Linked DNA regions of Homo sapiens: region 2 is linked to region 1. Evidence: fine-mapped expression QTL. A gene starts in region 1. The other region holds a variant in brackets. All regions are shown on one strand. Distances are from middle to middle.

Region 1 (5,364 bases):
CCCTGGCCCAGTGTCCCTGGACAGTGTCCTGGCGGACGTGCGCTCCCTGCAGCGAGGCCTAGAGTTGACACAGAGAGAGTTTGTGCGGCAGGATGACTGCATGGTGCTCAAGGAGTTCCTGAGGGCCAACTCGCCCACCATGGACAAGCTGCTGGCAGACAGCAAGACGGCTCAGGTGCGCCAGGGCTGGCCTCACCTGGAGGTGGGGCATGTAGGAGCACTAGATAGCACAGCCTGGAGGGGTGTGGCCGTAGCTGGGACCCCTTGGGGGGATGCAGCAGGAATGAGGGGCCACCCTGCCTGGGAGGAGCTCAGATCAGGTGGCCAGTGTCCTGAGGGGTACAGGCTGTGAGAGGTCTAAGCTGGGGGGCTGACAGGCTGTGCCCACAGGAGGCCTTTGAGTCTGTGGTGGAGTACTTCGGAGAGAACCCCAAGACCACATCCCCAGGCCTGTTCTTCTCCCTCTTTAGCCGCTTCATTAAGGCCTACAAGGTATTCGGGTCTGGGGCAGGCTGGGAGCCCTGTAGGGCACTGAAGCCTTTCTACTGGGCAGCGGAGGGGTGGGGCTGCTTCTGTTTAGGGGGTGGGTAGGGCAGTAGGGAGGGCCACCCTCATGGAGACTGCCTTGGCCCACAGAAAGCTGAGCAGGAGGTGGAACAGTGGAAAAAAGAAGCCGCTGCCCAGGAGGCAGGCGCTGATACCCCGGGCAAAGGGGAGCCCCCAGCACCCAAGGTAGGCAACTGCTCCTGGGCTTGGTACTGGGCTGCAGGGATGCATGGCATCTCATCACCCTCTGGTGCCACCCCCACACCCTCACTGTTACAGACTGACCCTGCCCCAGGAGCCTGGGATGGGAAAGGGTTCTTTCTGCTCAAGCCAGCTGTCCTTGCTGTGGGGGACCAGGCAGATATTCCAGGGTTTTGGTGATGGGGAGGCATCCTGGAGCTGGAGCTATAAATTCCCCCTAGTCACCGCCAAAGGCCCGGCGGCCACAGATGGACCTCATCTCTGAGCTGAAACGGAGGCAGCAGAAGGAGCCACTCATTTATGAGAGCGACCGTGATGGGGCCATTGAAGACATCATCACAGGTAAGGGCTTGGCCAGGCCTTGGTCTTATCCTCAGTCTGTCCTTCTATGCTTTCTTCTGACCCAATGCGCTATCCTCTGGGGGACTGGCTGCCACACTGCTTCTTGCTACCTTTTCTGTTTTTCTTTCCTTTTTCCTTTCTCTACTCCCCTTCACCTGCCCCACCCCCACTCAGTGATCAAGACGGTGCCCTTCACGGCCCGCACCGGCAAGCGGACATCCCGGCTCCTCTGTGAGGCCAGCCTGGGAGAAGAGATGCCCCTCTAGCCCCTCAGGTACCCAGATGACCTGGCCTCTGATACCACGCTGCCCACAGCCCCTGGGACCCTTGGGAGAACTGAGGCATGCTGCCTTCTCCTGGGCCAGTGGATGGCTGGGATGTGATTTGTGGGGTGGAGGGGTCTGGCAAACATAAACGGTACCCCTGCCATGTGCACACAATCTGAGTCCTTAGGAGGCTAAGCTTTGTGCCCTGGAGCCATGCTCCCAGCTCTGGGCGGACTCCTGAATGGTAAATGTGTCTCCTTCGGCTGCCAGATCTGCGGAACCAGCCCTACATCCGCGCAGACACAGGCCGCCGCAGTGCCCGTCGGCGTCCCCCGGGCCCCCCACTGCAGGTCACCTCCGACCTCTCGCTGTAGCCGCTATTTCTGCAGGTGGATTCTGCAGGGGTGTGGGGCCGTGGACAGGCTGAGGCTCAAGGAAGGTGGTCCTCAGCTCGGCTGGCCGGGCAGCCCCTCCTCCGCTGTGGCCCGCCTCAAACGGGCTGGTGCATCCTCCTCTTGGCCACAGAGGGCAGCATCGCCCGCCCCTTCCCCCAAATGCTGCTTGCAGCACCCACCCTAAAGCCCCCTCCAAATAGCCATACTTAGCCTCAGCAGGAGCCTGGCCTGTAACTTATAAAGTGCACCTCGCCCCCGCAAGCCCCAGCCCCGAGGACCGTCCATGGACCTTATTTTTATATGAGATTAATAAAGATGTTTGCAAAAGATCCGCGTCGGCTCCATGCCTGCCGCAGCCACCCGCAGCCTGTTTCCGCTCAGCAAACGCTTTACTTGCACAAGCTCTTCATAGCAGGCCTCTGCAAACCAGCGGGCGCCGGGGAGAAGGGCTGCTTCTTCACTAGAGTTGGCGGCGAGGGAGCCCGCTTCGAGGGGGCGGAGGCTTTCGTGGCTGGCCCAGTATCCCTGCGGGAGGCCGGAGGGGGCGAGCGGGCAGCTGGGGTTAGACACGCCGGGCCAGCCCCGCAGCAGTTCTCCTTCCGGCTGCCCCGCCCCATTTGCGCCAGTCCTGCCTCCCACCCGGGCATCTGGCCCCTTTTCCTTTCGCCCTACCCAGTACTTAGTGACGCCATAAGTGACCTCGCCTTACATCTCCGCGCGTGCCGCCTCCGTCACCGCCTGCCGGGTCCCCATTTCTTCCGGGCCTGCCCCCGCTCCTCGCCTGCCCCTCCCCTCCACCAGCCAGTGTCGCCCCATCTGTCTGTCCTCCGGGCACTTGTCCCGCCCCTCACTGCGTGTCCCTCCCCCGCCCGCCGGCTCTCACCTAGGCCGAGACACGCCCCGGGCTGGGCGGGATCTTGGGGCGGCCGGGCTAGTAGGGCTGGATCAGGCGGAAGCCGGGGCCCGGGGCTGGGCTTCGTGTCCTGCGTTCCGGGAGCGCCAACCCCTCCAGGTTAGGAATCTGAGAGTACGGGCTGCGCGCACCTGGGGCGGGTGCCTGGGAGGAGGTGGAGGAGGAGACGGTCCTCAGAACGGGTCCTGGGGGTCGGAGGCGAGGGCGGGGGTTGTAAGTGGCCGGGAGAGGTCCCTCCCGCGGGTCCCGGCGCCCCCCGCCCCGTCGGGGACGCACCTACTTCGTGCAGTTTGTGCAGCGAGCGCGCCAGCTCCTAGTTGGAGAGGTCGCTGATGCGCGCCGCGTGGCAGAAGGCGAGCCCCGCGTGGGAGCGCCCCCCAACCCCCGCAGCCTGGGCTGAGCCGCAGAGCCCGCTGCTTCTTGAAGTAGTAGCTTGGAGAAGAGAGGCGGGGCGGCCGCCTCAGACACTCCCAGCCCTCTCTGTCTCACAGGTGCGGAAGCCAAAGCAGGGCCGGAAGCCGCTGCTTTGTCTTTGTCCTGGGGCGACTTGGGGCCCAGGAAACAGACTCAGAATTCAGGGCTCCCGTCTCTAGGGCAGGAATATCAGGGGTCCCTGCGGGGGGCAGGGTTTGCTCCTCCCATTGTGGGCCCAGGAGCTGGTATGGTTGTGCCCACCTCATCACCCCCCGTGCCAACTTGGAGGGCACAAAGCCCCGGCCCAGCAGCTTGAACAGCATTTCCAAGAACAGGGTCTGCAGTCCCTGGGGGTACAGAGCTGGCTGTTCCTCACCCGGCTTGGGGGCAAAAAAGGTGAAGGAGGGTGAGGAGGGGGCACCCCCTAAGCCAGGCCCACCCCTCCTCCACCAGCCTTGCCCCTCACCCATGCACTGAGCCAAGCGGTGGTTGTCATCGAAGACACCCAGGAAGTCAATGAAGCTTACGATTCCATCACCTGGGGAGAGAGGAGAGGGGGTGCTGTGGGTGCCTGCCCCCTGCAGAAGGCCTGCCTTGCACATGCCTGCTGGCAGTTCCAGGTGTTAGAGAATCTAGTCCTGCCTCTAGCCAAGGGCAGACCCCAGTTTCAATGGGGGAGAAACGGCCCATGCCTTGGGGGTTCCCAAATCAGGATTAGGATGAACACAGCAGCAACGTTTACAGGCCATGAGATAGGTGTGTTGGTCAGGGCAGGCTTCCTGGAAGAGGGAACTTTAAAATAGGACCAGGCCAGGATTTTGTGGGAAGGGGAGGCATTCTTTAAAAGAATGCCTGGAGGTGGGAGGGGACAAGAAGACAGGGTTGGGGCACCCACCATCCAAGTCTGCCTGCCGCAGAGCCTCGAACGTCTCCTGTGGACTCAGCTGGATACCCACATTGCCCAGGGCAACTTTCATGCTGTGCATGTCCACGGTGCCTGTTGGGCTGGAGCTGAAGAGTTTGAAGATATCCTGGAAGGCTGAGGGTAGAGGGGACAGGTGGCAAGACGAACCACCCACACAAGAACCCTGAGAGCTGCCCACTCTAACTCAGGTGGAACTGACGACTTGGCTCATTCCAACTCCCTCCTGGGTGTTTTAAATTTTTATTTATTTATTTATTTATTTTTGAGACAGAGTCTCACTCTTTGCCCAGGCTGGAGTGCAGTGGCGAGATCTCGGCTCACTGCAGCCTCAACCTCCCAAGGCTCAAACGATCCTCTCGCCTCAGCCTTCTGAGTAGCTGGGATCACAGGTACGTGCCACCACGCCTGGCTTATTGTTTAATTTGTTGTAGAGATGGGGTTTCGCCATGTTACTCAGGCTGGTCTCAAAGTCCTGGGCTCAAGTAATCCTCCCGCCTTGGCCTCCCAAACTGTTGGGATTACAGACATCAACCTCCACACCTGGCCTATAACTTTTAATATAAAGAGTAGCAGTGGCTGTTGTGTGTTGGTACATGTTATGTGCCCATCCAGTCCTCATGTCCAAAACTCATGTTTGAAAAACATTCAAAACTCATGTCCAAGGTCACATCTGGCAGTCTGGCTCTGAAGCTACAGTGTCTTGGAGCCCTGCTGGTGCCTGGCATGTAGTAGGCACTGACCATTGTTGATGATGAATAAAGTGATTCTGCTTTGAGGGGCCCTTGCCAATATCAGGACATGTTGTTTGGGGGAGCACTGGGGCTGTAGTTTCTTTTGCCTTTACCCCTATGGTCCTAGACCCCATGAGGCAGGGGAACTCAGATTTTTCCCCCCATTTTTTCTCCTTCTTTACCTTCTCCCTTCTTTTCCATCCTGTTCATCATCCATCTATCCATCCATCTAAATACCTGCATTCACCTATCTACCAATCCACTGAGTTTTCTTTTCCTTTCCTACACACACACACACACACACACACACACACACACACACACACACAAGACTGTGAGCCCTAGGGTTGTAGAGATGAGCAAATCAGACAAGCATGGAGGGATGGTTGCAAACACTGGCTTCTTGCAGTGACCCCAGCTTCAGGGCAGGCAATCCTTTGTAGTTTTTCCCTGAGCACCCCCTAATTTTCTTCTCTACTCCCAGTCCTGGGGCCCTCACCTGCCAGCTGCTGGGGTGTCTTGCCTGTCAAGCTGCCCCAGGAGAAAGAAAGAGGTTGGAAAGGTCTTTGCATCTGTTGCATAGAAATGCCAGGGCTAGCCAGGCTTTACCCCAAACCCAGCACCCGAGGCC
Region 2 (5,364 bases), 22 kb after region 1:
TGGTTCTTTATATTCTCCCCTCCAAGGGCTCTTCAGACCTCCCACTAGAAAACAGAGAGTACAATGGTGAGGGGAAGCGTGCTGTGCACAGACAGCGGTCCAGGCAGGAGCGGCCTCTCCTGAGTGCAGAAGGGCTAGAGGCAAACAAAGGGGAGGACACTGCCCCGGGCCACCATGGGAGGTGGCTCCAGAGGGCAGCATGGTGGTCTCCACAGGAGACTTCCTCAATAAAATGGTCCCAATATGACAGGGATAGGACTGGATTTCTGTCTTTGATTCTGTTTTTCTTCTAGGTATCAGTAGCAAATTCAAAAACTACAGAATCAGCTCCAGAGGACTTTGTTAACAAGAAAGAGAAGATTGAAAACAGCCCTGGGGCTACACCAACTCAAGAGCTCCCAGGCAAAGTGGCATCCTGGACCCACCATCTCTCCTACCCCATCCTCAGTCGGTACTTCCCCAGGCACCGTTTGTTCTGGCATGGGGCTAGTTCAGCCCTGGGACCACCCTCATCCTTATAACTACCAGCTGTCTTTGGTGAGGTGCAAGATCTCTCTGGTTTTCTTTATTTCATTTTCATTCCTATAATCACAGCCTTTTTTGTGCCCATCCCTCAGGTGACATTCTATTATGTTTGATGTGTCATTTTTGATTTGGTTGTGTCCTTGCAAAATGTGCGTTGTTTTATTTATCAATTTATTTTTATTTTTATTTTTTTAAAGAGATGAGGTCTCATCATGTTGCCCAGGCTGGACTCCAACTCCTGGGCTCAAGCGATCCTTCCACCTCAATCTTCTGAGTGGCTGGGACTACAGATGTGCGCCACCATACCTGGCTATTGATCAATTTTTAGTTTACCAAACAGGCATTATGTTCTGGGTCCCATTCTGTGTCGGGTTCTCTTTTCACTCGGCACCATGGCTTTAGGATCCATCCATGCTGCTCTGTGAACGCCGAGTTGCTTTAACTGCTTGGTGCTCCATGAGGCATCCCCTTTTGTGTCTCTGTCCTCCCAGTGAGGGACCCCATCGTACCCTACTCCCCTCCCACAAAGGAAGCTGTAGTGCGCGTCCTCAGGCGTGTCCCCATATGGATCTGCTGGCATTCGTTTGTCAGTGCACCCAGGGGTAGAAGTCCTTGGTCTCAGTCTGCAGACGTCTGCCTGAGTGCAGCCAGGTGCCCCCCCAGAGTGGGTAGCCTTGTCCACATGCCCATCAGCAGCACCTGAGGGGTCCCAACAGCCCTACATCCCACCAACTTTCTGCTTTTTTCCAGTCAAATGGCTCTTGAGTGTTACCTGGCTTTATTTATTTATTTATTTTTTGAGTCGGGTCTCTGTTGCGCAGGCTGGAGTGCAGTGGTGCAATCATGGCTCACTGCAGCCTCGACCTTCCAGGCTCAAACAATCCTCTCACCTCCTGAGTAGCTAGGACTACACGCATGTGCCACCATGCCTGGCTAATTTTTAAATTTTTTTGCAGAGAAAGGGTCTTGCTATGTTGCCCAGGCTGATCTTGAACTCCTGGCCTCAAGCGATCCTCCTGCCCCAGCCTCCCAAAGTGCTGGGATTACAGGTGTGAGCCACTGCTCCCGGCCTGTCTTTATTTTGTATTCTTGGATTCCTAGTGAGTTTGAGCCCCCTCTATACATCATAACCCTTATGATACTAGTAAACATATATTTTATCTTTAACCCCATTTCTGGCACAGAACTCCTAAAAGCCTTACTCTCCAAAATGATCTCTTTCTGTGTACTAATGGATTGACTGAAGGCTGGCAGCCCCTAGGTAGCTTCAAGATGGGGGCTGGTCATCAGAGAGACATAGGCAGGATTAGAGGGTTGGGACTTTCATCCCACCATCCCACGTACTGGGAGGGAAGGGGGCTAAAGGTTAAGCGGTTCGCCAATGGCCAGTGATTTATTCAATCATGCCTACGTAATGAAGCCTACACAAAAACCCAAGAAGACCGGGTTCAGAGAACTTCTGGTAGCTGGGCACATGGAGGTTCCTGGAGGGTGCCAAGCCCTGGAAGCTCTGTGCTCCCTCCCACATGCCTTGCCCTATGCATCTCTTCATTTGTATCCTTTGTAATATCCTTTCTAATAAACTGGTAAATGTAAGGAAGTGTTTCTCTGAGTTCTGTGAGCCACTCCAGCAAATTAATCAATCCCAAGGAGGGGGTCATGGGGTCCCTGACTTATAGCCAGTTGGTCAGAAGCACAGGTAAACACGTGGGCCTGAGACTGGCATGGCTAGGGGGTGCAGTCTTGGGGATCGAGCCCTCCTGCTGTGGGATCTGATGCTACCTCCAGGTAGATAGTGTTGGAACAGAACTGAATTAGAGGACACCAAGCTAGTGTCTGCTGCAGAACTGATTGCTGGCTTGGTGGGGTGGAAATCCCCACACATGTGGTCACAGGAGTCTTCTGGGTTGATTGTAGTTGAGTGGGAGAATGGAAAAAGCACTTCGAGTTTGCGTGTGAGTTTTCTCTTTCCCATCTCCTGAGCGCTGCCTCTGGGTCCAGG[C/T]GTGGCACTGTCGCAATCTCCCAACAACCCTGAGGCTGCTGCACCCCCATAATCCAGAGGGGGAAACTAAGGCTCTGAGGGGTGCCTTGCTCTGGACCTGCGCCCACCTGCCTCCTCTGTCCACCTCTGTCTTCTGCCCCCCGGGTCAGCCAGCGTGGGGCTCTTCCTACCTTGCTGTAGTGCCCGGTTCACCTTCCCTCCCAGCTCCGCTGCAGACACGCGGTGGATGGGCTCTTTCCTCAGCCCCTCTTGGATGGCCTGGGCTGTGAGAGGGGCGCAGGAGGGTGGGATCTCCCTCACAGGCGGAGGCTCGCTGGCAATCTGGGGGGCAAAAGACAACAGGTGAGGCCTGCCTTCCCTCATTTCCTGATACCCGGCTGTTATTGCTCTTTGCGCAACTCCCGCCGGCCCCTGTTCCCGCTGTGCTGGGGTCTACCACAAGGAATGGAGGGGTCTGGGCTACAGTGAGGGCACTTTTCCCAGGAAAGGGACAAATGGAGCCAGTAAAACAGGCCAGAGCCAGGCAGCAAGACGCCCACAGCCTCCAGGCCCGGCCCGTTAGGAGGCAGGTGGATGGGGCCCAGGGTATGGACAGAAGAGAGTTCTCACCTGCCATGAACTTGGTGAGCCTCCGCAGCTGGATCTCCCCTTGTACCCCCAGATTTGGGTGGCAAGTATTTGAATTAGGATCCCACATGGATGACCAGGCCTCCCCTTGCTCCATCTGCCACCGCAGAGCAGCCCCTCCAGCCTGCAGCCTGGGCCCCAGGGCCCTGCAGCTCCCCCTGTTGGCCATGCTGGGTGCCGTCACCGACCTTGAGGCAGAGCGGCCCTCGGAAGAACTGAGTCCAGGGGTGGCAGCCGTTGAGCATGTGCAGCATCATACAGCAGCTGCTCCAGACATCCACCTTGGCGTCGCAGCTCCTGCCCAGCACCACCTCCGGAGCCATGTGGGTCTCTGTGCCAGGGATGTAGTCCCCTGAGAAGGGGGATGAGACATAAAGTTACCTGGAATGCTGATGGGCAGGAGCCTAGGCAATGGCCACCCTGGTTAATCCTCGGGGTATCTTACATTTGTCACTGTTAAAGTACTTTTTATTTTATTATCTTTTTAGTTCTTTGAGATGGAGTCTTGCTCTGTCACCCAGGCTGGAGTACAATGGCGCGATCTTGGCTCACTGCAACCTCCACCTCCCGGGTTCAAGAGATTCTCCTGCCTCAGCCTCCCAAGTAGCTGGAATTACAGGCATGAGCCACCATGCCCAGCTAATTTTTATGTTTTTGTAGAGATGGGGTTTCACCCATGTTGGCCAGGCTGGTCTCGAACTCCTGACCTCAGGTGATCCACCCACCTCGGCCTCCCAAAGTGCTGAGATTACAGGCATGAGCCACTGTGCCCGGACATGTTAAAATACTTTAAATATAGAAATAAAGTCTCCAAGTCAGACTTGTAGGGAGGAGCTAGGCGGGGACTCTGCTGGGAACTTGTACAAAGTAACAGAGCATCCATGATGTGGACTCTGCCCTTTGGACCAAACCCTTAAAGTGTTTTTTAAAAATGGGGCAGGGGCTGGACATTACAAATTAGGTTGTAGAAGGCTAGTAAGTAATACCAGTAAGTAATACTTCTTACTAGTAAGAAATACTAGTAAGTGAAATTTAAAAATTGTAATAGAAAACTTATATGCGTAAAAGACTGAAAGGATAGATGGCAGATGTGAACAGTGGTTTTTTTCCTGGTGATTTGTATTTGTAATTTTTGCTTAGCTCTACTTTCTTCAACAGATATTAGAAAAAAGGGTCAGGCAGTGGCTCATGCCTGTAATCCCAGCACTTTGGGAGACTGAGGTGGGAGGAATGCTTAAATCCAGGAATTTAAGACCAGCCTGGGCAACATACTGAGACCCCATGTATATCTACAAAAAACATAAAAATTGAGCCGGACATGGTGGTACATGCTGTGGTCCCAGCTACTCAGGAGGCTGAGGTGGGAGGATCGCTTGAACCAAGGAGCTTGAGGCTGCAGTGAGCTATGAGTGAGCTACTGCACTCCAGCCTGGGTGACAGAGCAAGACTCTGTCTCTAAAAAATAAAAGTTAAAAAGAATCAGAAAAGATACATTTTTTTTTGTAACAAGAAAAAGCCCACTACAGTTATTTTAAAAGGGCTTAAAACAACACGGGTGGAGGTCAAGTGTCCACATTCAATTTACATCTTCAGAATTGCCAACATAGTCCTTTAACAACACACAATCATATACTTCCAAAGATTCTTTTTCCGTTGGTCAAAATGAAATCATTTTATCCTTAAGGCTATACATGAAAAACGCAGGGCACAAAATTGTGTTATAATGGCCCTAACTAGGCACAGGGAAAACAACAGCCTGGAAGGAGTTATTTAAAATATTCATGATTCGGCCGGGCACGGAGGCTCATGCCTGTAATTCCAGCACTTTGGGAGGCTGAGTGGGGCGGATCACCTAAGGTCTGGAGTTTGAGACTGGCCTGGCCAATATGGCAAAACCCCGTCCCTACTAAAAATACAAAAATTAGCTGGGCATGGTGGAAGGCGCCTGTAATCCCAGCTACTCAGGAGGCTGAGGCAGGAGAATTACTTGAACCCGGGAGGAGGAGGTTGCAGTGAGCTGAGATTGTGCCACTGCACTCCAGCCTGGGTGACAGAGTGAGACTCTGTCTCAATGAAAACAACAAAAAAATTTGTGATTCTCTCTCTGGGTAAGAGACATGGTGAGAATTCTGTTCTCTGCCTCTTTTATATGCTTAACTCTATACTTCACAGTGGGCATGGATTATTTCAATAATCAGAGGAGTTAAAGA

Evidence for each region. PIP is the estimated chance that this variant, and not a neighbour inherited with it, causes the effect.
Region 2: its variant is fine-mapped to the expression of MAP3K14-AS1 in whole blood (TOPMed, PIP 0.97).

What each region holds. Positions count from the first base shown.
Region 1 is chr17:45,245,242-45,250,605 of GRCh38, forward strand. It overlaps MAP3K14-AS1 (MAP3K14 antisense RNA 1), which reads left to right and starts at 2,684. Exons shown (of 4, transcript NR_110326.1): 1 at 2,684-2,762. It overlaps FMNL1 (formin like 1), which reads left to right. Exons shown (of 27, transcript NM_005892.4): 22 at 12-175; 23 at 391-492; 24 at 637-732; 25 at 969-1,089; 26 at 1,264-1,363; 27 at 1,626-2,077. The coding sequence ends at 1,355. It also overlaps the pseudogene EFCAB15P. RefSeq lists silencers at 237-407, 2,342-3,071 and enhancers at 2,162-2,231, 3,482-3,531.
Region 2 is chr17:45,267,716-45,273,079 of GRCh38, forward strand. It overlaps MAP3K14 (mitogen-activated protein kinase kinase kinase 14), which reads right to left. Exons shown (of 16, transcript NM_003954.5): 10 at 3,343-3,506; 11 at 2,698-2,848; 12 at 1-44. It overlaps MAP3K14-AS1 (MAP3K14 antisense RNA 1), which reads left to right. Exons shown (of 4, transcript NR_110326.1): 4 at 294-915. Among named protein-coding and RNA genes, the nearest start is that of SPATA32, 8.3 kb to the left of the region's middle. RefSeq lists enhancers at 1-123, 5,278-5,364. The variant C/T (reference allele first, on the strand shown) is at 2,528.